6 separate regions of the Homo sapiens genome follow, and regions 1, 2, 4, 5 and 6 are each linked to region 3. Evidence: fine-mapped expression QTL. A gene starts in region 3. Each other region holds a variant in brackets. All regions are shown on one strand. Distances are from middle to middle.

Evidence for each region.
Region 1: its variant is fine-mapped to the expression of CA2 in whole blood (INTERVAL, PIP 0.94).
Region 2: its variant is fine-mapped to the expression of CA2 in whole blood (TOPMed, PIP 0.91).
Region 4: its variant is fine-mapped to the expression of CA2 in prefrontal cortex (ROSMAP, PIP 0.95).
Region 5: its variant is fine-mapped to the expression of CA2 in whole blood (TOPMed, PIP 0.92).
Region 6: its variant is fine-mapped to the expression of CA2 in whole blood (TOPMed, PIP 0.91).

The regions. Positions count from the first base shown.
Region 1 is chr8:85,864,367-85,869,444 of GRCh38, reverse strand. No RefSeq gene overlaps it. Among named protein-coding and RNA genes, the nearest start is that of LINC02849, 12 kb to the right of the region's middle. The variant G/A (reference allele first, on the strand shown) is at 2,810.
Region 2 is chr8:85,517,690-85,522,767 of GRCh38, reverse strand. All of the region lies in intron 3 of LOC105375937 (a long non-coding RNA gene), which reads right to left. Among named protein-coding and RNA genes, the nearest start is that of CA3-AS1, 55 kb to the right of the region's middle. The variant T/C (reference allele first, on the strand shown) is at 2,595.
Region 3 is chr8:85,461,468-85,466,545 of GRCh38, reverse strand. It overlaps CA2 (carbonic anhydrase 2), which reads right to left and starts at 2,539. Exons shown (of 7, transcript NM_000067.3): 1 at 2,431-2,539; 2 at 1,077-1,274. The coding sequence starts at 2,464. CA3-AS1 (CA3 antisense RNA 1) reads left to right here and starts at 1,631. Exons shown (of 3, transcript NR_121630.1): 1 at 1,631-1,964; 2 at 3,745-3,810. RefSeq lists enhancers at 1,931-2,430, 4,331-5,026 and silencers at 2,074-2,543, 2,654-2,973, 3,044-3,303.
Region 4 is chr8:85,971,063-85,976,140 of GRCh38, reverse strand. LOC107986954 (a long non-coding RNA gene) reads left to right here. Exons shown (of 4, transcript XR_001745984.1): 4 at 352-2,348. Among named protein-coding and RNA genes, the nearest start is that of PSKH2, 96 kb to the left of the region's middle. RefSeq lists a silencer at 4,595-4,795. The variant AAG/G (reference allele first, on the strand shown) is at 2,458.
Region 5 is chr8:85,548,589-85,553,666 of GRCh38, reverse strand. No RefSeq gene overlaps it. Among named protein-coding and RNA genes, the nearest start is that of CA3-AS1, 86 kb to the right of the region's middle. The variant C/T (reference allele first, on the strand shown) is at 2,305.
Region 6 is chr8:85,942,551-85,947,628 of GRCh38, reverse strand. No RefSeq gene overlaps it. Among named protein-coding and RNA genes, the nearest start is that of LINC02849, 90 kb to the right of the region's middle. The variant A/C (reference allele first, on the strand shown) is at 2,933.

The sequences.
Region 1 (5,078 bases), 400 kb before region 3:
AAAGACTTAAATGTTAGACCTAAAACCATAAAAACCCTAGAAGAAAGCCTAGGCAATACCATTCAGGACATAGGCATGGGCAAGTGTTTCATGTCTAAAACACTGAAAGCAATGGCAACAAAAGCCAAAATTGACAAGTGGGATCTAATTAAACTAAAGAGCTTCTGCACAGCAAAAGAAACTACCATCGGAGTGAACAGGTAACCTATAGAATGGGAGAAAATTTTTGCAATCTACTCATCTGACAAAGGGCTAATATCCCGAATCTACAAAGAACTCAAACAAATTTACAAGAAAAAATCAAAAAACCCCATCAACAAGTAGGCGAAGAAGATGAAGAGACACTTCTCAAAAGAAGACATTTATGCAGTCAACACATACATGAAAAAATGCTCATCATCACTGGCCATCAGAGAAATGCAAATCAAAACCACAGTGAGATACCATCTCACACCAGTTAGAATGGGGATCATTAAAAAGTCAGGAAACAACAGGTGCTGGAGAGGATGTGGAGAAATAGGAACACTTTTACACTGTTGGTGGGACTGTAAACTAGTTCAACTATTGAACCATTGTGGAAGACAGTGTGGTGATTCCTCAAGGATCTGGAAGTAGAAATACCATTTGACCCAGCCATCCCATTACTGGGTATATACCCAAAGGATTATAAATCATGCTGGTAGAAGGACACATGCACACGTATGTTTATTGCAGCACTATTCACAATAGCAAAGACTTGGAATCAACCCAAATGTCCATCAATGATAGACTGGATTAAGAAAATGTGGCACATATACACCATGGAATACTATGCAGCTATAAAAAAGGATGATTTCATGTCCTTTGTAGCAACATGGATGAAGCTGTAACCATCATTCTCAGCAAACTATTGCAAGGACAGAAAACCAAACACTGCATGTTCTCACTCATAGGTGGGAATTGAACAATGAGAACACTTGGACACAGGAAGGGGAACATCACACCCCGGGACCTGTCAGGGGGTGGGAGGAGGGATGAGGGATAGCATTAGGAGATATACCTAATGTAAACGACGAGTTAATGGGTGCAGCACACCAACATGGCACATGTATACCTATGTAACAAACCTGCACATTGTACACATGTACCCTAGAACTTAAAGTATAATTTAAAAAAAAAATTTGTCCGATTTGTTTTGTAGCAATGGATAACTAGAACACTGGGGAAGTTACTTAAGCTTTCTGAGCCTCAGTTTTCACATGTTTAAAATGGGAATAATAAGAGTAACTAAAACCACATTGAGCTTTTATGAGTATTATACGAGATGAAAATATATCCATGTGGCACATCACAGTACTCAATAATGTTAGCAATTATCATTTGCAAAGATAGTTTAGACATCCTGACCAACCTAACTAGGTAATATTTGTAAGTTTCCATTTACCATGCATGATGATACTATTTTTTTTTCCTGAGACAGGATCTTGCACTGTCACTCGGGATGGAGTGTGGTGGTGTGATCATGGCTCACTACAGCCTTGACTTCCCAGGTTCGAGCAATCCTCCCACTTCAGCTCCCCGAGTAGCTGAGACTACAGGACTACAGGCACGAGCCACCATGTCCAGCTAATTTTTTGTGTTTTTGGTAGAGACAGGGTTTCGCCACGTTGCCCAGGCTTGTCTTGAACTCCTGGGCTCAAATGACCTGGGCTCAAATGACCAGCCCTCCTCGGCCTCCCAAAGTGCTCAGATTACAGGCGTGAGCCACAGCACTCTGCCTCATGTTGATACATTTTGGATAAGGGTGTATTCTGTAAATAAAAAACTAACTTCAAGGTAAAAAAAAAAAAAAAAAGAAACTTATGTTGTCTTCTCTGATTTTCATAGAGCTAATCTGGGCTCTTCAACATCTCTAGTTTTCAATTAGTCCTCAAATTAACTCTTCATGGTAGTGCTCTTAATTAAGCCTACTTTGATCTGTGTTAATCTATCTTTAGCCTAACTTTCAAGAGCTGCTTTGTTTTCATGGTCATGGCTCTACAAAGTCTGCTTTGCCAGATGATAACTATTATTGTGTATTTATCTAGCTTTGTGTTATCCTTCCGTTTTCTTCAGTATCAGCCTTGATATTGAGAAATGCTTGTTCCTTCTCTGAGTTTCTCAGATCAGAGATGATAAAATCTGGCCCAGTGATTTATCTGCCACTCGACTATCTCTGTGTAACCTCTAACAACCCCATCGTTATGTGAAAGTTCACTGTTACAGAGCTTCCCAATACAGGACCTGAGGAAAAAAACAAATGAACACTAACATGCCAAGAGTCAAAGATTATTTTTTATATTTCCAGAAGCGATTTCCTTCCCCCTGTAAAATGGCCAGTTCATAGATTGCTCGTGTTATTTGATAGTTATGGGATGTAAAAACCTTGAGAGTATGTCAGATTTTAGCCATGAACATAAAAGTTAGAATTAAGAAAGAAAAGTCTATGAATTTGAACATTCCTATGCTCTGGAAATACGATCTGCATATTGTGTTTACCCCTGAGGGTGAAATGGCTCAGTCTGATCAGCCAGCTCCACAAGGATATCAAAGCTCAGATACCTCTGGGTTTTAATGTATGCACCATTCTCTCCTTGGCCTCATCACAGATAGGATAGAGGGCTGCAGCCCTTATCTGGAAACCACAACCAGTGCTTTTTGCCCCAGTTGCTTATTCCATTTTCTTTAAGGTCTTTAAAGAAACTAGACAGGCTTCTATGTGGCATTACCTCTGGCTAGACTAAGCTGCCTCATTCCTTGCTTCCGTTACAATCCAGTGAAAGGGAAGGCC[G/A]GGGCAGAGTTTCTAGGTGAATAATGCAACTCTTATTCCTTGTTCTGGATTGAGTCTGGATTTGTTTGATTATAAGTTGTATTGGTTTGCTTAATGTTTTAAAAATATATATTTGTTTGTATAGTTGTTAAACCTCAGGTCCCATGCTCTACTTAATGTTTTTTAAAGTAAACAACAAATGCAAAGAGTCCTGTGTATGCTTTTTGAAGGATCAAGCCTGGACCACAGACCAAGACTCATGAAACTCACTGTGATCCCTTTGCCATTCTGACAGAACATCCTGCTCCTCTAAAACAGTCCTGCATGCTTCTTTTAGAGAAGCTGACACTGCACACAAATATTTAGAACTAGTTTCCCAGAACTGTCTACAGAGCCACTTCATAAGCCACTCAAGAAAATATGGCTCGTTTGTTACCTGAGTATCAATGCCTCAATTTTATTAAAAACATAACAAAACAAAACAAAACAATACAATCTTCCTGCTATTTTCGAGTTTGGTTCCCCACCATACTTATAATTAACTCTTGATGAATTTTGAGAGTTTTTCACATATCAAGTCTTCCCTCAAGGTAACGATTTGTCACTGTTGAAGATACTGGTGTATTGAAGAAAAAAATAATTGTGGGTCAGAAGTTGAAAGTTTGTGTTCTTACATCTTGGATGTTGACTTTGTGAACAGAGTCACTCACTTCCCTCCAGTCTCCATTTTCGGCTGTCAAATGTGTTTAGAAGTCATTCTTTCAAGTATATATTGAGCGGGATACAGTTAGCAGTGTGCTCCTGGTATATGAATTGTGATAATCCCCTGATTAGTATAAGGACTAGATTAGACAATGTGACAATGTTTGTGCACTGGCTCCATGAATGTAAGGTGTTATATAATTGACACACTTCTGACCCCAAAAAACAAATAAAAAAAAGTTCTGAAAATATTTTGATCATTGGCAGAGTCACCAGAGTAAATATTTGTCTTACCAAGGTGCCTGGGACTAGCTGAGTATTTATCAAATGAATAAATTTACTGAACGCTGGGACTGAAGAAGAAAATCAATAGCTATACCTGTGGTCTGTTGGAATATGTGAATAAATGATTAAATAATGATACTCATAAAATGTATATTACTGTGTGTTAAGTGAGGTATCTGACATTATTTAACACTTGAACTTCATATCTTAAGAAAGCTTATACTTGAGCATTATACTGAGCATTGAGTGAGGCAGGCTGAGTGGTGCAGGAGAAATGTCTTGGTCTTATTTTGTGTTGCTATAGCCAAATACCACAGACTGGGTAATTATAAAGAAAATACATGAATGTGGCTCACAGTTCTGAAGAATGGGAAGTCTAAAAGCATGGCACCAGCATCTGGCAAGGTTCATCCCATGTGGAAGGGCAGAAGTGAGCATGCAAGACAGAAAGAGCATGAAGGGTGGACTCCCTTGCATAACAATCCACTCTTGCAATACCTAGCCACCTCCAGTACCAACTTGATCTATTCATGAGTCCTCTGCCCCTACAGACCCAATTACTTCCCAACACTGCTGCATTGGGGGTTAAGTTTTCAACACATGTATTTAGAGGACATATTCAAATGATGGGATCTAAACTCAAAATAATGAAAGTCAGTGGGGCTGCAGCTAATACCACTATGGTTGTTAACAAAGCCCTTTATATTTCCCTGTGATTGCCCTGATCTAGGGAAATAAGGGTAACATCTTGGGGTTACGTGTTATGTTTGTTGGTGTTGATGGTTGTTGTTTAAATCAGTAGACGTGTCTTGGGTGGCATTAAAGCCGGGTTATGGCCCTAGGGCACATACCAGGAGGTAAAATGGAAAAGACAGCTGGAAGTGGGCTGCATATGGGTTGGGAATGAGAAAGTCAGCTCAGGATTTCAACTTGTCTATTGCTGATCCACAGGGAAGGTAAACCATATAATGGAAACTTAACAATATATTAAAACATGTAGATTTTTTGGAATGTTTCTCTTTTAGAATTGCTTTCATGATTTCATGTACAGCCTATTTAATAGTACTTGGAATTTTTTTTTAAATGCATGTTTATTCATTAACATCACACTTTTTTTTCCCCAAAAAACAATTTAAAGTAGATTACTGTTCCACTTCTGAATTCCTAGGTCGATTTAAAAAATTTTTTAAATCTTGCTAGTTAATTTGTACTTTAAAACATTTAATGATCCCATCTTTATTTATATAGTTTTCTAGTAAAAGTTTAACTTTTAAGGATGCCCTTGAATGATAATATTGCCATG
Region 2 (5,078 bases), 56 kb before region 3:
ACCATCAGTGATGAAACAGAAGATGTACACCTATCTCCTTGAGGCATAAATCTGAGCAAATATTCCAGTGACGTCAGCTAGAGTCTCTATTACTGCATACAGTAGTCCTGTAGAGTTATTCTTTAATTCATTCACTCATGCGTTGAAGATCTTCTATTTCCAGTCACTGTTTCAGGCTATTGAAGGCAATGTTGAACAAGACTTTCCCTCTTATGAAACTTACCTATTAGCTGGGGACACATAGAATGCACAAGGAAATTAACAAGAGAATATCAGGTGGTAGGTTTTTTTTTTTGAGCTATGCAAAGAATGGAAACATGATAACATGTTTAATAGAATGATTAGGTGGCTAATCTACACTGGGTGTCAGAGTAGGTTTCAGTAGGTGTCAGTAGCTAGGCTGAGTCTACTAAGCAGGTGCACCCAGTGACATTTTTCTTAATGTCTGGAGGAGAAGGAGTCAGAGAACTGCATTCTAAGTGAGAAAACAACTTAGGCAAATGCCTTAAGGTGAGAATAAGTCTGACTTATTCAAGAATCTTGTGGAAGACCAGTGTGACTGGAGCACAGACAGTTAGGGGAGAGTGGTGTGAGGTGAGGTCTGCAAGGAGGCAGAGGATGCCTCATGAAGGACATCATGGGATAGGGCAAGGGATTTGAGCTTTACTCCTAGGGTAAAAGGAGAGTATTGCAGTACAGTGGCATTGTACACCTTTAGCATTGTCCGTATATACTGCAAACATACAACATGCTAAAGAGGTTTGTGGGTTTTTCCGGGGTCCAAACCACCATATGAAAAATTGTTTCTATAAGAAATGCTTTCTGAATGCCAAACAAAAATTCTCACAATTTATTCGAAGCCTGATCAATTTATCATCAGTGCTGAGATCTTTTTTAAATATGGCTTGGGCATTATTTCAATATTGCTTTTATTCCTGATAATAAATTTGGAAAATGGGGAACTGCTGTTTGAATCTTCCAGGCCTCAAGAAGAAGGTGGCTTGTCATTTATCTCTCTCTTCCAGTGTACAACAAGGCTTACCACTTGCAGAATCTGTTTCGGGATGGTCATTTATATTATCTACTACTGAGTCTACAATTCTTAGGTCATTTAGTTTGTATTTGAAATGTTTTCTGACAAAAAATTTAATTCACACCATCTTCTCCTTCTTGATCTTAATTAAACCAACTTTCATTTTGAATTTTTCTGTAAGCCTTTTTGACCTAAAAAACATTAGAAGTAAATCTTTACCATTTTGAAAATTTCATTAGTAAGCAAAATGTGAAATGCAATTATATGTTTAGTTATTTGTGAAAATTATTCTCTAGGGTTCAATTATTTTATTTTGGGAAATACATTTCTTCTAGGATAAGAGATTACTCTAGTATATATCATGGGCCACATCAAATAATTTGAAACAAGTTGGAACTTAAATAAATATGTAAATGTAAAATGGTGTTTTCCACTAAGTCAATGACTATCTCATCCACAAAAGACTTCGCTTCAAGCAAGTTACTAAGACAGAAAATGATTATGTTTTGTATTATCATCTTAAATTGAAGCTCACTGTATCCTTACTGTAAATTACTTTCTGTAGGAAGAGATTTTGGGGAGTGTTTTTAAGACCTTAGATAGAGTCTTATAATGGAAGCTTACCAAGTAAATTTCACAGACTCAAAAATCCAGAAGCTAAATAAATTGATCAAGTAATATAATCAAATTAAAATAAATTTTATTTTCCAGTTATGGATACTCACCACACAATATTATCAAAATACTTTTTTAAAACTTCATTTTATGGAAAAGTTCAAACACTTCCAAAAGTAGAAAAAATAGTATAGTGAACCCTCATTTATACACCATCCAGTTTCCATAATTATCAGCATTTTGTCCATTTGTTTCAGTAACTCCTCAACTTTTGAGAACATTATTAAGAGCTGAAAATAATTATATGCATAAATTGGTCATTAGTTTGAAGTTAACTACAAGATCACTCTCTTTCCTAACACCATATATCTCTTTATGGTTTTTCTATTTTTAATCATAATTATTAGATTTAGTCCTAATTTCTTAAGCAAAAATATGGTCTTTAGTGACTTCCTGTCATAGTTTTTCAGAGCATCACATCTTTCAGTGCCTCGTGGGAATTCAGTAAAAAAAAAGCATTAATGGTTTTGGTTTTTCAGAGCCATAGTGCTTAGGTTAACAAGAGAGCAAAGCTGTGAAATAATACCTGAAAAGGACAAAACAGGAACTCCTTTTTGTCTGATAATTGTTGAGTTTAGGCCGTGACGGCGTTAATGACAGGAGAGCAATCTCACAAAATGAGAAGCAATGTAAAGGAATGTAATCTTCTTTTGTGCTTTTGCCTAATGAATAATCTTAGATTTGTTTCCCATACAGTAGAATCGAGTTTAATAAATCTTCACCTCTGCAGCATTATTTTATTTAGGATTTCTGTTATTTCCCCCTTGCAGCTCTGTGATTGACTGTCCCAACACCAGTATATTTTTGCATACTATCTACCTTTAGTCGGGGAAAATATTTATAAAACTCAATTTTAAACATGTTGAAATCCTGCAGAGGTTCCTCA[T/C]TGACTTCAGGGTAACAGCCATCACTTTAGCATGACTTAGGTGAACATTTCAAAACTGACTCCAATTTCTCTGTCTGCCATCATAATATGTTGAACTTGTTGCATGAACTGGAATGACTGTCCAGAATGCCCCTTTTGGGTGAAAACTAATCACACCGTCTATTTATTCTTCAGATATTCCTTCATTTAGGGGCCCTGAGTCGTCATCTGTATGAAGTGCTCCTCCTCTGCTCTCACAGAACTGAGCAGGTTATGTTTGTTTGTTGGTTTGTTTTTTGAGACAGAGTCTCGCTCTGTCACCAGGCTGGAGTGCAGTGGCGCGATCTCGGCTCACTGCAACCTCTGCTTCCTGGGTTCAAGCGATTCTCCTACCTCAGCCTCCCGAGTAGCTGGGACTACAGGCATGCAGCACCACTCCCAGCTAATTTTTTGTATTTTTAGTTGAGACAGGATTTCACCATGTTGGCCAGGACGGTCTCGATCTCTTGACCTCGTGATCCACCCACCTCAGCCTCCCAAAGTGCTGGAATTACAGGCGTGAGCCACCGCGCCTGGCTGTGAGTAGGTTATGTTTTAAATGTCCATTTACATCCTCATTCCCAACCACATAAAATACTCCCTGAGGCCAGGGATGGTGTTGTACTCATCTTTACATCCTCAGTGTGTTTCCCGTTGCTCTGCATGTACTAAATATCCAATAAAGAGTTGTTTAATAAATGGCTGAAGTAATGAATGAAAGATGCACAATTCTGCTTTTATTTAGTAAAAGCATTTTACCAAAAGGAAAATGGAAAATCATCATTTGGAGTGTCATTTTCTGCCATAAAAGTTATGGTGGCAACTTACTTCTAGGCAAGTATAGGATTCTAGATCTATTTCTTAAATATACCTATTCCAGATCTATAATCCTAAAATATTATTCACTGATATCAGATCCATGTTAACAATGTACCCCGTCAAGATTTCAACAGTACATGTGAGTTTAATAAAAGTCCTCTGCTCTCTCATATCACATGGGTTGGTGAGCCACAACCCAGATAGCTATAGGTTCCCTAAGAGAGCTCCAAGGAAACAACAATGAATAAGAAGAAGTTGAGTCTATTTTTTCCCTCAAGAAAACAAGCAGACCTTTCCCAGAAACTGATAGACAAAAGTTACTTAGGTTTCTTGTGGGATTTATTGAGTTATGTTATGAGTGTGTATCATTGTAAATTTAAACCATGCGTATATTTATACACTGTCTCAAGTCCTTTCAGAAACAGACAGGAGCATAAATTTAAAACAAATAACAGTACAAATTTATATATAACTACAGAATTGTTGGCACATGCTACATGATATGCTGGCATACTCGTTTCATATTTGTAAGATCAAATTGATCAGTGTTATTACCAGCAGTATGGCTATATTGCTTTGCTTTATTTCTAAGAGATTTGAACCTTATTACTTTAAATAGAAAATGTGACTGCATCATTTAAATTGCTCTGATCGTAACCCAATGCAATGCATAACAGAAAAAAAGAGTTGAAAAACTGTACCCTTTTTAAGAACCCAGGGAATACGTAATTCTTTCCAATACATTTAAGAATAGTTTGTCTTGAATGTTGTAATTCAAGTTACAATTTATTCTTATTCTTTCTTATATGCCTTGTACAAAAAAAAATAAAAACGGTTTGCATCTGTCTCTAACAATGCATATTTATAATAAGGCTATGAAAGAACTTTCAGATTTAAAGTACGCAATATTTTTTTAAAGTTCTCCAATCTTTGTTTTTTGTTTTGCTGTGTTTTGTTTTTGTTTGGAGACAGGGTCCTAACTCTGTTGCCCAGGCTGGAGTGCAGTGGTGTAATCACGGCTCACTGCAGCAGCGACGTCCCCAGCTGAAGCGATCCTCCCACCTCAGTCTCCCGAGTGGCTGTGACTACCAACGTGGGCCACCACGCCCAGCTAATTTTTTGTACTTCTTGTAGAGAAGAAGTTTTGCTATGTTGCCCAGGCTACTCTCGAACTCCTGGGCTCAAGCCATCCTCCTACCCTGGCCTCCCAAAATGCTGGGATTACAGGCATGAGCCACCACACTTGGCCCTAATTCTCCAATCTTAGTCTAAGAATAATAGGAAAAATTATACGATTCAGATTCAGATTCCACAAACATTTATTGAAAAGCTACTACAGGCTGGGCACAGTGGCTCATGCCTGTAATCCCAGCACTTTGGGAAGCCGAGGTACAAGGATCACCTGAGCCTGGAAGATTGAGGCTGCAGTAAGCCATGATCCTGCCACTGCACTCTGGCCTGGGTGAAAGAATGAGAATCTAACTCAAAAAAAAAAAAAAAAAAACCTACTACATGCCAGCCACTGCACCAAGTTCTTCCTATGGTATCTCATTTGCTCTTCATAACAATGTGGTGAGGAAAGTATTATTACTGTTTCTATTTTATAGATGGGCAATTGAGACTCATGGGGTAAGATGCTTACTATCA
Region 3 (5,078 bases):
TGTTTGCAAATTTTTTTAAAGTTGAAAGGAGGGAAGAATTCTTTTTTCAAAACCAAGTTGACTATATAGGATAGCTGCTGACAAAGAATAGTCTACCTGACTAAATGGTTATAATTACATATTATATAATATATTAGTACCGTAGGTCACTACTCCAAAACTTTCTCATTTTGTTCCACCACTCCCCTCACTCCCACACCACCACCAAACAAAATGTGTTTGCAGCACCATTTCATTCTATGACCTTCAGAGGAAAGCACTCAGGAAAATAGGGCACTGGCAATTAAATTAACTGCTTAGCAAAGAAGGCAGCTACTATGTGTGAATGGGATTGTTCTCTTGTTTCAAAAGAGAGAGAGATAAAAAAAAAAAAGCAGGATTTTTTTTCTTCTTTCTCTTTCTTTTTTTTTTTTTTTTTACAGTGAGCATCCTGTAAACAGCTCTATTACCAATAAATACGGTAATTGGTTTTGTCAGTAATGGGCCAGGTATGTTCACCAACTCTAAAACATCTTCGTTTGTGAAATGAATTTCTGAGTAGATATCAAAACATGCTGCCATCTTTATCACACTAGCCCAATACTAAGAAATACTCATAAGTAAAACATTTTCCCAGAATTTCAGTATTTTAAATTGGCACGTTTTTGTTACTCTTCTCGCTGCTAACTTGAAGATAAGGCTCACTAAGATATACTTTTTAATGGATATGCATCAGCTCTGCAAGACAAAATATTTTACAATCTTAAAAGTTCAATTGGTGCAAATCTCATCGTGACTGATCTTTATTGCGAGGGGACTTTGCACCTTTTGTGATTTTTCACAGGCATATCGCAGTTATTCAATGGCCTTCATAGAAGCCAAGGGTTTTACAGGGAAGAAACGGCCCCGGGACACTTCAAACTAATTAGCCTACTTCTCAGAATCTGAGACCTAATGAAAATGATCAGGGTGGCATCCTTGAGTCCTGAGACAAACTGTATTATTAAGAGGGTTCCTGCCACTGTTCCTGGCTCCTTCCATTAAGCTCGGAAAACAGCTACTGGCTAAAAGACACAAGTTATTTTCTAAACACTGACCTGCTTTGTCCTGAGAGTCATCAAACTCCACGTTGAAAGCATGACCATTGTTGAGGATCCTCAGGGAAGTTGCTTGATCATAGGAAACAGACAGGGGCTTCAGGGAAGGGTCATACTTGGCTGTATGAGTGTCGATGTCAACAGGGGACTGGCGCTCTCCCTTGGCAATGGGGAAGTCCTTATGCCAGTGCTCAGGTCCTGGGGGAAAGAAGACATGTGAATCCCCCATTGTGGGGAAAGGTACACCCAGACCCCTAGAGAAGAGCAATCATTCCGGAGCCAATCTGCTCAGTTCCAATTTTAGAAGCATCACTTAACAATGGGCTAAATTTTGGGAAAACACGTAATCTGTGCCTCAGTTTCCACATTTGTAATATGGGATAATTAGAAATCTACCTCATAGATGTCGCTGTAAGAATTAGAATCGATATATGTAAAGCTCTTAGATCACTGAGTGCTATATAAATATTAGCTATTTTAAGGTCGTTTTACTGAAATTCAGCAACTGAAATCGGGCAGACACTAATGTCAGGGCTTGTGGTTGCGATTTTGGGATATGCAAGCTCACTTAAGACATTCAAGGAGGTCTGGATCCTTTCCTCACTGCCCAGGCCCGGGCCCACCCCACCTTTAACCGTCAGGGTTCCCCACTACCTGGGAAGCCCCACACCCTCCAAAGATGCGCTAGGTGCGCCAGACGCATGCTCCTCTGCTCCGCTGGCTCCGAAGAACCAGATCTGAGGCCAAGATAAAACCCGATTCCTGATGTCCGACCCCCTAACATTAGAAGTCGAGAGATGAAGGGAAAACTCGGAAATCAGAGCCATGGATTCAAACCAGCACTGGAAAATGCCCCGGGACAGTTCGTGCTGAGCGCCTTAGCCACAGGTGGTGCTGAAGCTGGAGGGGTGGGGTGGGGGTGGAAGGTGGGGGAGGGGGGAGGGGAGTCTCTTAATTTCTCTGCGATCAACAACTAGAATTTTCCGTTACAACCCTTTCCCGCCTCCTCCTAGGTCCGGTTAAAATGATCCCCAGGTCGGGACCCGGGAGGGACTGTCCTCGGGTCCCGCGGCCAGGGCTGCGCCTCCCCTCCCTCGGGCCCTACGCGCCTCCGGCGGACGCGGGGATTCCTCCACAGTGGCCTCGCAGCTGGGGCAAGGGGGACATCCCCGGCGCCGCGGAGCCGCGAGCGGAGCGAGCGCCCGGGGCGCACCTGAGCCTCCAGCACTCCCCGCGGCCGCGGTAAACAGCATGTGCGGGCGCTGCGGGCCCCGGGCCGGCATCCGGGCTCGGGGATCGGGGATCGGGGATCGGGGATCGGGGCGCCCCCGCGCTGGCCGTCGCCGGCACTCACCGTTGTGTTTGCCGTACCCCCAGTGATGGGACATGGTCGCGCTGGCGGTCGGGGCAGGGCAGGAATCGGCACCGATCTGGCGGCGGCGGCTTGGGCGCCTGCACTGTGTGTCCGCGGGTCGCGCCGGCACCAGCTTTTATAGGCTCCCGCCAACTTCGTGCTCGGGGGCGGCCCGGGGGAGGGGGCTCGGGTGGACCTAGGCGACAAGGGGAGGTGGTGACGGGCGGAGGTGAACTCCCCGCGCTCGGGGCGGGGCGGGCCGGGCGGGCGAGTCTCCGGGGGCGGGGAAAACGCCCTCTCGGCTGGCGCCCGGCGGGGCTCCGGGGCTCCGGGGCTCCGGGGCTCCTCTCCCGCCGCCCGGCTCCCCTCGGCCCACGGCAGGGCCCCGGTGTCCTGGGCTGGCAGCGAAGCTCGGAGCTCTGGGCGTGCGGCGGCTGCGGTGGCTCCTGGGCTCCTCCGTCCAACCCGGGCCGCGGAGCCTCTACGCGCACCCCATCCCCCTCCCGGCTGCGGAGTCTGGCGGCGGCGGGGACTGCTCGGGACCCGGACCCCCGGCGCCTTTCGTCCCCTGTCCCCATTGTGACCTGTCTCTTGGCCCCGGAGCCCTCCCGCCCCACCCGCGCCGGGGTCTCCAGCGCGAAGGGCTCAGTCTCTGGTGTCCCCGGCCTGGGGCTGGCAAGCTGGGTTAGGAGCTATGACCTTGGGGCAAATAGGGATACGATCCTAGAGGCGCAGGGGAGCGCGCAGCATGAGTGCTGAGAGGCACGCGCCCTCTGCTGCACGGCCGTGGAATAAAACGAGACAACGGCCCCACAGTCCCCTGCCCGCAGCCCACGCTCGGGCGAGCCTGGAGGATTGCATTTCCTCGTAGGCTGGCAGAGCCTTACATGAAGCGCTCATCTTCTCCTACTTTCCTCCTCTTTAAAAAATTAACGTGGGTGAGGAGACGTCCTAGTTGAGTACATATTGATTTGAAATAACCAAAACTTTTAACAAATCACTTTTCTCAGAAGAATCCAGTAAGAGAAAGATAATTTCTTCCAAAGACATGAGACGTTCCCTGGCTGGCCAAGAAAAATTGGCATCTGGCATACCTAGGAATCATTCAAAATAGTTTAATAGGAAGGACATTTTGAGGCCAGCCAGCATTATGACATTTGTGGGTCCTACGGCATTTCACCTTGGTGGGTCCCTTTTTCATAAACACGCATTTATACCAACACTGACATAAAGATAAATATCTTAATATTATATATTTAAACATTTTCTTTAACCAACACCTAATTTTTTTCTTTTTTGTTCTTATTTTAAAAGGAAACATTTTCCTGGGCATCTAAAAGTATTGTGGACCTGAGACACTGTGCTTACAGGGCCTACTGGGTAAGTGAGGCTGTTTTGAGATATAGAGAGAATTCATTTCCTACAAGGGATTTTGCCACAGAAAAATCCGGGGGTTTGTGGGAAGGAGTTCGGTTCTGTGGTCTCTGCAATCTCTGAGGGCAATAGTATTAGAGTTACAGTTGGGGAAGCAGGACACAGTTTAATGTGATTGTGTCGGCCTTGACATCACATTACTTACCTTTGAAAATATACAGATAAATACAAGGATAAGTTATTAGTGGACATTTTTGCAATATGTATCTCAAAATCACTCTTTACTATTTATTTCAGTCAATTTCATCCAAACAAATATGATTCATGTTTAGACTTACTTGTTCTAAGATTCTAGAAAATTGTGTACTTCTGCTTATGTGGGTTTTGGGTTGATGTCACAGGGAATTCTTAGGCAAGAAAGCAGCAATAAAGTTTTTAAATTTTTAGGACCATTACAAAATGGAGTTTGTAGCAAAGAAGAAGCTTTTATTTGTGCCTCTGTAGGTGCATTGTATCTGTTGGGGCCCATTGATGTAATTTTGTTTCTTTACATAATTTTCAAATATTAACTTAGTTGCTATGAGACTCTTCACTTGGCCCTGGAGATATGGCGTTGATAGGTGCCAAGAATTGAGTGCAAAGTTTGTGAATGTAGAGTGGCTTCCCGGGATTCTGTGGAGGGAGCCAGGCGATTTGATCAGCAGGAATCCTTGTCTTTCATTTTCCGTGAAACTGGATTGTGGCTTTCCTAACAGGGATGAAGTAAGAGCATGTTTGATTCTTAAATATGCGTAAAACTTCAAACACCACCAAACTGCAGTTCACCAAATGGATTATTGTCATGGGAATTTTTCCTTATCTCTCACTTCTGGAAAGTGAATTAATTCTCAGTGGGAGCAAGCCCTCCCCACAGAGCTGCTGTTAGGGAGAGTGTCACATGTTCACCACAGGGTGGAGAGTGGTTCACCTTTGGTTACTCAGAAGCAATCTAAATTTTTTAGCAGCGTTTTTGGTATTACAGTGGTTGGCTTAGCATTGTTTTATTTTCCTGGTCAATTTTTTTTAATGGAGTTAACTTTATGCATTCATGTTGGTCAGTCCCAACCTAACTTTATTTTACTGAAGGCATTCTTCTTAGCAGGCTGTCATGATTCACTAGCTGCAAAAGACTACTCTAATACTGGATTTGTTCAAATAAAAAAAGTGCTTATCTTATTATGTACCTATCTTTCCATTAGAGGGAAGGATGGGTTCATTTCAGAATAATCTTAAGT
Region 4 (5,078 bases), 510 kb before region 3:
ATGCAGAAGTAGAAGCTTGCTTCTGAGTAGTGTCATTTCTACTCATAGGCTCCTCTGCTTCTGCATTCTTTGAGGAAGCTCCAGAGAAACCTGAGTTTGAATCTTAGCTTTACCACTTACTAACTGTGTGCTGTAGTTATCTATAATAGCAAGATAATATTTTTCCCTTATCATAAGAGTGATGTGAAGCCTAAATGAGGTCATGCGTATAAAGTGTTCAGCATGAATGGAACCTTAACAAACCCCCAACACTTTGTTAAAGAAATGACATGCTTTTTCTAGGCTATTGCTCTGGATATAAAGCAATTTTGAGAAAGGTCTTACTTGGACTCTTTTTGGTGTCATTTTCAGAACAGGGCAGGAAATTATCCAACTTGCAAGAGAATGCTAGCTGAAAATCGTCCCATCTTATGGAAAACCGGTAGAAAATCCAGGAGGTGAAATGGAGAACATGTTCAACTGGAGAATTCTATTTCTTATGCATGTCAAATATGTTTCCTTCTCCTGCACTAGCTGTTCCTTCTGCTGGAAGAATATTTATATGACTGGCTAAACTTACTGTTCAGATCTGAGAGTAAATTTGCATTTCTCAGAGAGTTAGTTCCTGACCACCCAACTCAAAGTACTAACACTCTATCTAGTCCTTTTCTTGTTTGTTTTTCATGTTTATTTTATTTCCCACCACTAGAATCTAAGCTTTTTGAGAGCCGGCACTTTGTCCATCTGGGTCACTGAATCCCAATGAGTTATTCACAGATGTTTTTAGTACATAGTAGGTGAAATGCATAGATAATATTTCAACTAAGAAAGTGAACAGAAGAAAGTTGGTCATTGACTTATTACTAGTAGCTCACTACTCTCTATGTATGAAGACATCACTTACTGATGGTTATGAAGCAGATGCTCAATAATTTTTTTTTAATAAACAGGAGGGCAAGGAGCCAATGTCGTTTGTAGTGGAGGGTAGTCATGGACACTGAGAGTATGTTTTAGACACAATTTATCAATGGCCAGCCTCAGGCTGAGATAAAATATAACAGAGTTTGCCAAGGTCTTTCATGCCCAGGCAGTCAGTGCTCACATGTTCCCTGTAACTGCCTGGGTACCTTTCCCTGAGTCATCAGTCCTGTGTCTTAATTCTTTTAGTAGCACCTGCATTCTGCTCCTTTAACCTTCCATCAATCAGCTCTTATATACTGTACATCTCTTTCTCAAGAAGCCTTGTGCAACGCATGGTGATTTCAACAGTGATGAATATTTCCTTCCCTCTGACTTCTTATGAAACCAGGATAATGAAGCAAATTAGAATGTATTTTAACATCACTCTCCCTTGTTTGCTGTCCAGCTAATGAACAGTGGACTGGCTGAAGAAAGACCAGCATGAAGCAGAAAAATTGTTTGGTGAAAAATTCAAGAATGGGCCAATATCCATTAAAAGATTGAAAGAGGAGATGTTTTGGGTCCACCTCCACTGGGGACAGAAATTCCATTCTGCCAACACCCCCTCCATATCCATTGTCTGAAAGAGGCACTGCTGTTGAGTCATAAGTAGGCTCCAGTGGCCCATGTTGACCCTTTGAAATTCCCATGGGACTGTCAATTCTATCTATTCTGGGAGCAGCCAACCATAGCTAATTACAGGCCTGTGGTATTAGTGGAACAAGCTTCAGCTTTTTACATTGGCTTGATGGAGAACTGAGTAGATATAAAAGTGTTACATGTTTTTCTGTAATCATAATAACGTAATCTTGTTTCATAATCATTAATAATTCCTAACATTTATTGAAGAGTTAATATGTGTTGAGTATTTTTGTAAGTGCTTAACATGCAGTTTTTAAAATTTTAACTCCTTTTTACAGAAAAGGTTTACAGAACGCCAGAGGGGTAGGTGATTTTGCCAGAGCTCTTTTAGGTAATAGGAAACAAAGCCATAAATTTGATCCCAGCTAGTTTGACCCCATAGTCCAAGCATTAATCCCTGAACCACACTAGCTCTGGCAAGGGTATAAATGAGCAGTGATTACTAACTGACTTAAAACACAATAGGAATTATCCCCAGTGAATTCCAACATATAAAGGGACACTAATTCTTGCCATAGAAAATCTATTTGATAAGTATGAACAAGAATTCCAAGGTTATCAAAAATAATTTCTAATAGTTTAATTCTTTAAAAGAAATGGTGTATCTCATGGACACAGGAAGGGGAACATCACACTCCGGGGACTGTTGTTGGGTGGGGGGAGCGGGGAGGGAGAGCATTAGGAGATATACCTAATGCTAAATGACAAGTTAATGGGTGCAGCACACCAACGTGGCACATGTATACATATGTAACAAACCTGCACATTGTGCAAATGTACCCTAAAACTTAAAGTATAATAATAATAAAAATAAAATAAAATAAAATAAAATAAAATGTCTCATTCTGATCACTGTCAAAAAAAAAAAAAAAAAAA[AAG/G]AAATAGTGTATCTTATTAAGCATAGTCTCTAAGGCAAAGAACTATACTTCGCCAGTGGCCTCAGGAGGGCTATCACAAGTTATTTTTCTAGATGGATTTTCCATCTGTTCCCACTAGATGGTGCATGGGTTACACAAATACCCCCAATCTCTACTTGAGAGGAATTACCCTAAAACAAGAAGAAGAGAAATTGAGCAGAGAAAGGTGAATGTGGAATTTGGACTCAGTTGAAGATAGTAACACCCTAAACAGTGACTTGCTAACTATTGGAGCCTGGGTTTCGAGTTCCATCTTTTTTTTCCTCTCAGAATAAACACTAATAGCTACTTAATATGAGTTAAAGAAAATTTGAATCATAGTCAAAAGCTGTCTGAGAGTTTGTTTTCTCAGAAAACTGTGTTACCCATAGTTGCAGCCAGGAGTGGCATTTTGAAAAAGATATTGAGGAACCAATTCCAATGAGCCAAATAAGTGTGTCCTTTAATTTTAATGTGTGTTTTCTAGAACAAGCCAGAATCTGCAAATTGTTATTTCTTCCTAATTTTCCTCAATTAGTTTGTAATAAAATGGTCATGAATAGCCAGTTACCACTTTCTAGTAATCATACAACCAATTATTATGATATTCTAAAATTCCAGATAGTTCAATGAATAGGACCAGAAAATTCTGGGAAATCCCTTGAGAATAAATTTTAAAACCAATAGTCATTTATTGTATTTGAACTTTCATGTCTTCCTCTACAAAATGAAATAGATCACCAAAAACTCTTTGCAGACTTCTTTATGATCTCTAAAGAAAAAGAGAACAGTATGAGTGCTTATACCCAGAAACACACATATGTACATATACACTCTCCTGTTTGAGTCTAAAAGAGAGTTATGTTCTGTTTCCAGAATCAGGATTATGTGGAAACATTATTATGTTTGCTGAAAGGGTAAGAAAACAAAACTTCATTTATGTACAAGGATGAGGTGGTAATTGGAATTAGGTACTGCACAAGAGAGTACTACCATACATTGTATTTTTCTCAACTCATGTAGAACCTGTTTTGAGGCAAAAGATGGTGATGTGATTATAGGTACTAATGTGCATTTCTAGATTAATGTATTACTTTTCACCATATGAGAAGTTCTTTTCTTAACTTTTTTTCTCAGGTAAATCTATTTGATAACTATTTGTATTTAGTACCTCTAAAGATTGAATAGAGCCATCTCCCAATTAATTAATCGTCAACCTCATCTCAATCCCTTCATAAATGGGTCAGTAAATATGCCAGCCCTGAGTTGTGCTGGATAATCTATAATTTAGTACAGAAGATAGAAAATATTCAGTACAAGTTTTTAGGATATGTAAATGGTGCATAAATGGTTATTCATTTCTCTGAAAAGAGTTTTAGTCCCAGAAAGGAATCAATCCTTAACTGAAAATACAAAGAACATTTGATTGTAGTGTCATCAGTCATTTTATATCAGAATAAATGCTTTATTTCCAAGAAAAATGGTCAATAATAGGCTCTGTATGTCCTTTTAAAGCTGATGTTTCAGGAAAAATGAAAAAGATTATGTAAGGTTTCAGTTAGCACTGAATAGTTTCAGCACCAGGTACCTGGGTGTTGCAGATAGAAGTCAAAGGAAAAAGAGGATCTTTAGATGCTCTGTAGAGCCACTTCTGTATCTTAAATCTTCAAAGAAATAAACTTGGTCTATAAATGAAAATGAGTGTTCCAAGAGCCAGGGCACATCATCCAGTGAATCTGGCTATGTTAGAAATGCTCCCTTTTCTGAGAAAAAAATAAGTGCTGGGTTCTATGACATGGCCAAAAATGGAAGGTTTTTTCTTAGCTTGCAGTCTCTTGGGATCACATATCACTATAACTCACTCAGATCCTCCAAAATGCAGAAGATTGATGTCTACAGTGCTGGGTATTAAACCAGGTAATTAGCTCACTGTGTCCATCATAACTTTATTATAATGCCATTGATTAGGAGTTAGTAACAAATAATGATGACAATTCAAAATTACTTGCATAAGGAAAATATAACTAAAAAACAAACACACAAAACACTGGCTAGTCAAGGAAACACCTAACACACCAATTCTTGAAAAAATCATCTAGTAGATAAGGCTTGCAGTTGTCAGCCTATGGAGAGCAAAAGAAATTTCTGTGAGCTTTCCTAAAATGCTCCTTAGGGTATGCTAATATGGAATTATTTCCTTTCACCTATTTCCTGCAGCCTATTCTTACGCGGAGGAAAAAGAACAGCCCCAGTGATTGAGCGCTTAGATAAGATAGCTAGTCTCTTGCTTACTGTTGGTTAAAAGGAAGTCACGTAGTTGTGAAACCTTCGAACCCTAAAGGAAATGGGTGGTATTTGATGGCATAAAATCCACTGGATGCCTTATCTTCCAAGGTCTGGATGACATCTTTTTAATTTCTGCTGCCTATTTCATTGACTTCCCAGGTCAAATGAGTGAGACCTATTAATAAGATGCTTCACACAACCTAAGTTGTTGAGTGGTCTTGGATTTAGTATCTCTGATTTGATCTTAGGTCTTTTTAAAACAACATTGCTTATTTTGAATAGAGCTTTGATTTTCCAAGTTAAAAACAAAACCCA
Region 5 (5,078 bases), 87 kb before region 3:
CTCATGAATAACTTGGTGCCTCATGAATTGCCCCTCTCTCGCTGTGTAACAGGCCTACTCCCCCTTTGTCTTCCACCATGATTGTAAGCTTCCTGTGGCCTCACCAGAAGCTGAGCAGCTCCAAGCACCAGGCTTGTACAGCCTGCAAAACCATGAGTCAAAAAATCTCTTTTTTAAAATAAATCATTCAGCCTCAGGTGTTCCTTTATAGCAACACAAAATGAACTAATATAGATGTCCTGTCCTTAGGGGAAAGTTATCCAAGTCCTAGGATTAGAAATATATTTTCAATAGCCTAGCCTCTGGAACAAATTATATCTAAAATTTAAAAAATTTGAAATTAGTTGAATCTAGAATCTGGTAGGTAGATAGATCTAGTGGGCTGAGAGGAGGCCCAAAGTGTGCAACTCATTTCTTTGATTAATGAGGTACTAATGGCTAAATGTTGTTCTAGAATCATGTGTCTCCAGTCCTGCCTGAGGCAGGACTGTATAATGTATATATACTCATGCCTGAGTGTACTATCCAACCAACAACAAAACAAGCTGCTACATTTAAATGCTAACTTCTGCAGATATACAAATGACCACACACTGACACTCAAATATTTATTCTTATTAATAATAAACCTCAAAATCTAGAGTACTGGTGCAGACACCCTGTTTATTTAAAAATATTCCAAGATAAAGCCACTGCTCCTCTTGCAAATATATGTGCTACTTTGTTGAATAATTTGATAGGAATTTTAGGTTAAACAACTATTACCTTTTGTCCCAGGCCAAGTTGCCTTTTACTGATTTAAATGTTGACTACAGCAAGTGGAAAGCATAAAAAATATAATGATACAGCCCTATAAAAAAATCAAGAAAGGAGAGGCGCAGTCCTGCCTGAACAAATATCATTAAGCCTAACCATACCTAGAGGGCAGGGATTTGTGTCAGTTTTGTGTCTCCGGCGTCTAAGAGAATGCTTACGAGCTGGAGACACAAAATACATATTTCTTAAATGAATGGTCTTCAATTTTTAAATTCTTTTCCATTTCTAATTATAAACTCTACATCTCATTCTCTCATTTATTTTATTCCATTTTCTCCTTTTTATGTGTAATATCTTCAGTATCTCTAATAAGCACATCTCTGTCTATCCCCAAGACACATGCTAAGCAGCTTAATGTGATGCCCATGCATCTCCAAGGTGTTTCCTAAGGGAAAAGGGAGATTTTGGAATCTTGCAGGATCAGATTTTGTTCTTTGGAAATAATAACTGAGTAGATGAAAATCTGTAAGACAATCACTCTTTAAAACATTTACTACCTTGGAAGACCGGGAGGATTGAGGGTTGAGTCAAGAACAAGCATCCTTACTAAACATATTTTATTTAAATAAGAAAGCTTTTGACCACCAACAAAATTGTTTTTAAAAATACAGCAACAACAACAAAAACCAGTGATCCTGTGAGATGTAATTACACCTCAGGACACCACATAATTTTAATTATGCCAGAATATGTTGGAATATGGTGAAATGTATAGAAAACGTGTCCATCTGAAACCCTTTACTGGACGAAAATGTATTTCACAATAGCAAGCTCAAGCAGTAATGAAACCTGCAGTGTATCAGGATGACCTTTCAGACTGTGCCAATATTGACAAAATCAAGGAACTCTTTGGAAACCTAGATAGGACAAGCAAATAAGAAACGCCAAGAGATCACACTACATACTTAAGTCAACCAAACAAAGTTTGTTTGTAACTTGACAATATTCCTATGAATCAGAAATTATAATGCCTTTAAAAAATGTGTTGGGGTTCTAAATTTTAAATTTGATCTCTTGGAATTGTTCATATTATTTTTAAGAAATTCCCAGACTAGCAATTAGCTCAAATAGCTTTTTAAAAATCAACTTGCATTAAAATTAGTTAGCATTAAAATGTTCTATATTATTGAAATATGTCGAAGCCACTTCAGGTGTTTGCCTGGAAATCATGGAACCATATGTATGCATATGGTTATGTATGCATGTGTATGTATATGCATGTTTATGTATGTGTATATTTATGTGTGTATATACCTATATATGTCTGTGTATGTATGTGTGTGTATATGCATAATGTTTAAATATCTTTAAGTATAAAAACAACAAAAAATTCCAACGCAGTGCTTGTTTAGGGTAAAATTCAATGCAGATTCTCAAGCCTTAGCATATTAATGCTCTCCAGCTCAAAAGATCAAATGTCAGCATCCCACAGTACTTGTAGCAGATTTAAGACAACAGGGAACAAGAATCCCAGATGCTTTGCCTTAT[C/T]AGCAAATCTTTTTCAGGTAACTAATCTTTAGCTCATCATGCAGTTTTGCCACCTAAGAGATTTCTTTTACTCCCTCTCTTAAGTGTCTGTCTGACTGCATTTGTTCTAACAACTTAACTGCAGTGTCCTGTCATTATTACCTGATTTATTAAGTAGCCAAGGGTCAAACATGCTTGAATGTCTACAATAGGTATCAACAATGTGGGCAGCATAATAAAATGAGATCCAAATAAATGACTGTGTTATAAATATTTTATGTTAGTGAAAAAAATGGTAAAAGCTTTTGGGCTTCTCTGAGTCCTTCTGAAAGGATGTGGTTTTTAAACAACAGAGCCACTTCAAAACCAAACTCTAATTTTAATTCAAAGATGATGTCTCTCAGTGTTCCACACCTGAACTCCAGTTGGTATGTAATTCCTAATAAAATTTCTAGGTAAAGGACGTCACTGTTTTTGTCACTGGATAATATTCTGAATACCATTTCCATCTCAGTAGCCTGTATTTGGCAGCTTAATAGTGCTATGAAGTGAAAGGCATGAAAGAGGACTACAGTGCTGGTGTTTGGGGAGTGAAGAATATTTTTAAAGCAGTTAAGGCAGGAAAGAATAGTCTGGGTCTAGGGAAAATAACTTATTCAAGATTATTGGAAAAAAAAATGCAGATAGCATCACAAAGCTAAGTCTCCTGCTTTCATGTTAAGGATGAAGGATATTTCTTAGCAATTTTGAAAGTCAGCCAGCCTTTAGTTCTTTTGCATTATAATGAGCCACTTCCTTATTCCCTGCGTATGCACCCTGTTGTCCTTACTGACCTTCATTTCTTTCTATAATTGTGGTAACATTTAACATGAGCTCTACCCTTTAAATAAATTTTTGAGTGCACAATACAGTATTGTTATCTACAGGTGCAATGTTCTATAGCTGATCTCTAGAGCTTTATTCATCTTGCCAGACTAAGACTTTATGCCCATTGATAAGTAACTCATTTCCTCCTCCTCCCAGCCCCTGGCCACTATCATTCAACTTTTTCTATGAGTTTGACTACTTTAGATAGCTGATCTAACTGGAATAATGAAGTATTTGTCTTTCACACTGGCTTATTTCACTTAGCACAATGCCCTCATTGACACATATGGCAGGATTTCATTCTTTCTTTAAGGCTTAATAATATTCCATTTTTTGATATATATCATATTTTGTTTATTTACTCATCCTTCAGTAGACATTAAGGTTGTTTCCACCCTTGGCTATTGTGGATAATGCTGCCATGAACTTAGTAGTGCAAATATCTTTCAAGATCCTGATGTCAATTTTTTTTAATAAATACCCAGAGGTGGAATTGCTGGATCATAAGGAAGTTTATTTCCACACTTGCTCTCATCTTCATCAGGGTTATCCCTATTCACTCATCAGGTCACATCTTAGCTGTCACTTCCCAAAAGAAACTTGTCTGGCCCCACCCTCTCACAATTGTATTTCTTGACTTCAAAGTGTTACAACTCAATAAGCATAGACCCAAGGTCACCACACTTCACCAAGCCTTCTTATCTCCTTCTGTGTTCTTCCCTCAGGGAATGGCTCCACATTCATGCAGCAAATCCATCCATCCACGCAGGGGCCCAAGACAGAAATGTGGATGCCATCTTGGTTCCCCTGTTTTTGTTCCCAACATCAACTTGGTAAATAAGGTTCTCAGTCAAATCTGCCCACTTCTCACCATGCCTACCCTGACTCCTCCGATTCAGGTCACCATCATCATCTCTCACTTGCTTGATGACAACCTCAGAGTTTCCTGTTCTTGGCTCCCTGATATCTGTTCTCTACTTTATTGTCAGCCATCCTTCTAACATGTGAATCTAATCATTTATTCTTCAGTGCTACCCATTTACTAGTCTCCGTTGCCTTCAGGATATAATCGAAACTTCTCATCACGATTTACAGGGTATTTCATAATCCCTAATCCATAATCTGTGTGGTAGATATTATCACCCTTAGATTGATTATACAGAGATACACCTTTGATTATACAGAGATAATCAAATTAGAGTCTCCATGATATTGAAAACCTTGATTAGTATCATACAGCCAGGAATTGGTGGTGTTAGAGGTGAATTCATATTATAAGCTTGAATAATGCATTCAAGTTTGATTCATATTTAGAAGTTTTAATTTATTTTTTGCCCAGCAAGATATACATTCTAGGGTCCCACTTAACATACTTATGATTTTATACACAGTATAGCACGGTTAAATTTCATTAGAATGTTACTTGTGTATAAGTTTTTAGACAACCCTTACTTGTTATCTTAGTTGGGTTCTCCTCAAAACAGAATCTGATAAAGGATTTGTGTGCAGGTAATTTACTTGGGAGGTGATCCCAGGGAGCAGGAGTGGGGAGGATTTTGAGCCAGGGAAGGAGAAATAGTCAACAGAAGTATGTGTTAAGGAATGCCAATGCTATGACATTGGGGCTTAATTTTGTAAGGACCTCATAAAAAGTGTCCTGGATGCCTCCCAGAATTCCTACCTGAGGGACAGAAAATGGAGAACTTTCCATCAGCTTCTGGCCTCATTGGCTAAGAGTAGCCCTCAGGGGTATTAACTTCCCCCAAGGTTCTAAGCTGCACATATGCAACAACCAAGCAAGATCCTGCCAGCTCCTGGGATCTGCAGAACTCCAGGTCAGAAAGCAAAAACAGGCAGCACACATATAGTCTCTCTGCCAGAATGATGTGAATTGAAGACCACATAGACCTGTCTAAAACAAAATCCGA
Region 6 (5,078 bases), 480 kb before region 3:
CGGAATGGATGGGCATTTTTACAACACATGAGTCTGACAACAGATTTGTATCTAGAATACATAAGTGTTTATTAAATATTAATAAAGATTAGTGTAGCTAAAATTAGAATAAGAATACATCAGAATATCTAAGAATATAATGCAACTAGAACTCCCATAATTTGCTTATGAGAATGCAACATAATAGAGTGACTTATTAAAACTGGAAGTTCCATAAAACATTAAACATTCCCTTGCCATATGACCCAGCCATTCTACTCTTACGTGTTTACTGAAGAGGGGGCACAAAGACTTGTATACAAATGTCTGCAGCAGCTTTATTCACAATAGCAAAAAACTGGAAATAGCCCAAATGTCTATCAACTGACAAATGCATGAACAAATTGCGGTACATCCATACGAAGGAATATACCTTTCAGCAAAATGAAAGAAATACCTACTGATATGTACAATAATATATATGGCTCTTGAAATCCTTATGCTGACTGAAAGAAGCCAGGCACAAAGCTGTGCATACTGTATGATTTATTGAGTTGGTGCAAAAGTAATCATGGTTTTGCCATTACTTTGAAAGGCAAAAACCGCAATGGCTTTTGCACCAACCTAATAATTACATAAAGTTCTAGAAAATGCAAACTAATCTATAGTGACAAAAAAATAATTAGATTAGTGATTGCCTGAGGCTGAGAGTGAAAAAAGTAATGGACCGTAAAGAGGCATAAAAAAAGTTTTGGGGGAGATAGGATATCCTGTATCTATCTGTTAAAAATTCATTGAATTCGGCCAGGCACCATGACTCATGACTGTAATCCCAGCACTTTGAAAGGACGAAGCAGGCAGGTCACCTGAGGTCAAGAGTTCGAGACCAGCCTAGCCAACATGGTGAAACCCCATCTCTACTAAAAACACAAAAATTAGCCAGGCGTGGTGGTGCAGGTTTGTAATCCTAGCTACTCGGGAGACTGAGGCAGGAGAATTGCTTGAACCCTGGAGGCAGAGGTTGCAGTGAGCCAAGATTGCACCACGGCACTCTAGCCTGGGCAATAGAGTGAGACTCTGTCTCAAAAAAATAATAAATAATAAAATTTAAAAGTCATTGAATTGCACACTATGAAGAATGCAGTTTATTGTAAGAAAATTATACCTCGTCAATGTTGGGGAGAGCAAACTCATTAGCGACAACAGCAAAAATATGTGGTTGTATATTTATCTATTCCTCTTTGTGTTTCTGTCAATTTTTGATTTTCATATTTTGAGGTTATGTTATTATTTGCTTATAAATTTAAAGTGTTTCATTTTTGTAAAATATTGAACCTGTTATTTATATGAAATTACTTTATCTTTGGTAATGCTTTTTGCTTAAGAGCCAGTTTTATCTAATGTTTATATAGCTGTGTCTGCCTTGTTGTTTGTTAGAATTGCATAATATACTTCTATCATTTTCTTTAGACTTATCTTTATGTAAAGCACATATCACTTTCTTTAAAACAACTCTGACAATGCTTGTCTCATAACAAGTATTTAGTGCATTCAAATTCTATTTTTTTTTTTTTTTTTGAGACAGGGTCTTGCTCTGTTGCTAAGCCTGGAGTGTAGTGGCATGATCATGGCTTACTGCAGCTTTGACCTCTTGGGCTCAAGCAATCCTCCCACCTCAGCCTCCGAAGTAGCTGGGACTACAAGTGTGTGCCACCATGCCCAGCTAATTTTCTTATTTTTTTGTAGAGGTGGGGTCTCAGTATGTCACCCAAGCTGGTCTAGAACTCTTGGGCTCAACTGATCCTTCCACCTCGGCCTTCCAAAATGCTGGGATTACAGGTGTAAGGCACAGCACCTGGCCAATTCAAATTCTTCAAAGATATTTTTTATGGATATATAATCATAAATTGGCAATTATTGTATTTCTGCACATAGAAATGATCATTCTACTGGCTTTCATGTTCTATTATTGTGCTTAAAACACCTCTTTGCCATTCTTTTGGTGATCTGCTTTTTCCCCGTGGCTGCTTGAAAATTGCTGCATTTTTCTTTGGTGTTTTGCAGTTTCACCATGACACATCTAAATGCAATTTCCTTTATTGAATCTGTTTTCTCTGAGTTCTGAAAAATTATCAGCTATTATCTCTTTAATTTTTGCCTTTGTTTTCTTCACTCTTCTTGAGTTTGTCTTCTTGCATAACTTTGATTAAGAGTATGTTAGCCCTTCTCTTTATCCTTCATGTCTCTTGGTTAACTGCCATGTTCTCCATCTTCTTGTCTCAGTGCTGCATTCTGGTTAATTTTTTACCTTTCAATTCACTAAATCTTCTTCAGCTGTATCTAGTTTGTTCTTTAATCCCTCACCTGACTTTTTATATTTGCCTTTCAAATTTTTTTGTTTCTTTTATATTATTTGTCTCTTTTTCAAATCTGTTATGCCTGTTTTTATAGTTTCATTTCTTTGCAGATTAAGTTGTCTTCTATATCTTTAAACAGAGTAGGAATACTTTTTTTCATAGTTTGGATAATGTTAATTAAGTATTTTGGGATTTGTTTCGGTGATTTAATGTTTCTGCTGATTGTTTTTCATGGTGCCTTGTCTTCTGGTATATTTTGTTAATTTTCATTGTGGATTATTCAATGACTAATTTTTAATTGAATTACTTAATCACTTTTTATGATTATTTAAGACCTAGCATTAAGGTGCCTTCCTGCACCAGGACATGGCTGTGGTGACCATAACATCTCAGGGACTTTTTATGCCTTATCTCTTTTCCTGTTTACTCAGTGCCATGAGAATTTTCCTAGGTTCCCCTGAGGAGTGTGTGTGTGTGAGGCAGAGAGTAGAATGCTTATTTATAGTTTGTTTTTGTTTTGTTTTGTTTTGTTTTGCTTTGCTTTTACCATGAGATGTAACCTTCTGGCATGCAATTCGATGTGGGGAAGCTCTCAC[A/C]GTCAGTTTACCACCTTGGGTGAACTCTGGGGCTTAACTTCCGTCTACCTAATACCATAAATTCAAATATACTGGGTTCAGCAAATGCCCCTGAGGCAGAAGAAGCTTCAATGTTCCATTTATTTCTCTGAATTCCCATTTGTTTTTAGGTTTTGGATTGGCAGTCTCTTACTTTTTCATTAAATATTTTATTCTTTTGATAATATTCTTTAAAATCTTACATAGTCTTTTAATTTTTTTGGTAGAAATTTAGCCTGAATCTAATTTGCCATTTATTGGAAAAAGAAATCCTCTGTTCTTTGTTGTTATTATAGAAATAATAACTTAGAAATTAACTAGTAGAAATGATTGAACACATCTTTGAACATGGAAGTAGAGCACAAGTAAAACAAGTTTGACTTGAGGTGTGAGGCACTTATTTCCTTTTCTGAGATACAACTTTGCAGCATCAAAACTCTGGCTAGACTGAGTCACCCCAGTACAATTGTCAGCTTTCAACATCATCCTTAGTGGACTCTTACGAATCTCAAAGCATGTGAAATTCATGGACACCTACAGATCGTCACTTATATAATGTCTTCAAAGGGGAGCTGGGAAATGATGACTTAATTATTTTCTATGAAGTCCTAATGTGATTACATATACTCCTAAGTTTCGTTGATTAACATACAGAAGGCTTCTACGTTAGCAATATGTTCAAGTTAGCCAAATCTTCAGGTTTGTCAATCTTATAGAAAGTCATAATTGAATTTTGTGTCTATGAATCACTCTGCAGTTTCCCATTTATTTTAATGTTGTAATGAAGTAAAACTTTAAAGCTACTTCAGCATATAACAGAAGTTCTTCAGAATTATCTCCCAAAGATTAATTTGGTTAATAGTAATAATAAAGTATTTCTTAAAGTATTAATTTGACTAGTTATTTTCTATAATCTCCTCTTCAACTTACAACTATGGTTGAAAAGACAAGGAATTTTATGATAAGAAGAGAGATAATGATTTCATGGTTTATTTGAAAACTTATCAACTACATCATTGCTGGGACATGTTAAGTTTGAAATAGGCACAGACATTTTTGATAGCTAATAGAGACCAGAATACAGGCTGCAGAGAAACAAGAGTTGGTCTTCCACTCCCATTTGGGGATCAATGGGATCATAGCAGAGTCTCATCTGCTGAAGTATGTCAACTAGTGGTAGACAAATTTAATAGGCATGATTCTTACTTGAAATATAAGTAAAATAAACATTAGGAGAAATAAAGCTTTCAAATTTTCATCATGAATACAAAATTTAAAGCAAAATATGTTCAAATGTTGAGAGAATCTCTGCTTATAATGAAGAGTGAAATAAGACAAATCACTGAAACTTATGAATGCCATATATGTAAAGTTCTATATCTGTTTCCTGGAAAAGAAGACCATTCAAGTCATGTTTCTGGTGAGGGAAGAGACAATAAATAAGGAAAATCATCATTTCCAAATGATTTATTTTTAAATATATCATTTGGAATTGATGAATTTAAAGATAAATCATTTGGAAATTATGATTTTCCTTATTTCCTGCTACTCCCAACATTATATGTTTAAAAAAATTCAAAGAATTTTAATAGACAGAATCTTTCCTCTATTTCAGATGCCACATTTACTGGCATTTGTAGCTCTACTAAGACATAAAAGTCAATATGTCAACATGAAATTGTGAAATATGAGGCCTGCCAGTTGATGAGAAACTATCTTCGAAATATCAGACTTTATTAGTATTAACCAAAATAGTCTTCATGAGGTAATTCTGAAGAGCTCCTGTTACATGTTAAAGTTCTTGCTTTGAAACATTAACACATTACAAAATTAAAATAAATGCAAAACTAATTCATAATCATAGAATGATTCATAGACACAAAATTCAATTGTCACTCTCTGGAAGATGGAGAAACCTTAAGAGTTGGCTAACTTGAATATATTGTTAATGTAGCAGACTTCTGTATGTTGATCAATGAACATTTAGAAATATATTTTATCATATAGGCCTTAATTCTTTTCACAGAGATTCCCTAATAGACTAGGTCATAATTGATGATTCCTTATTCAGAATCTTACAAATCTGCCAATGGGCTTCCGGTGCTGTACTAATCTGATATGCTTGGCT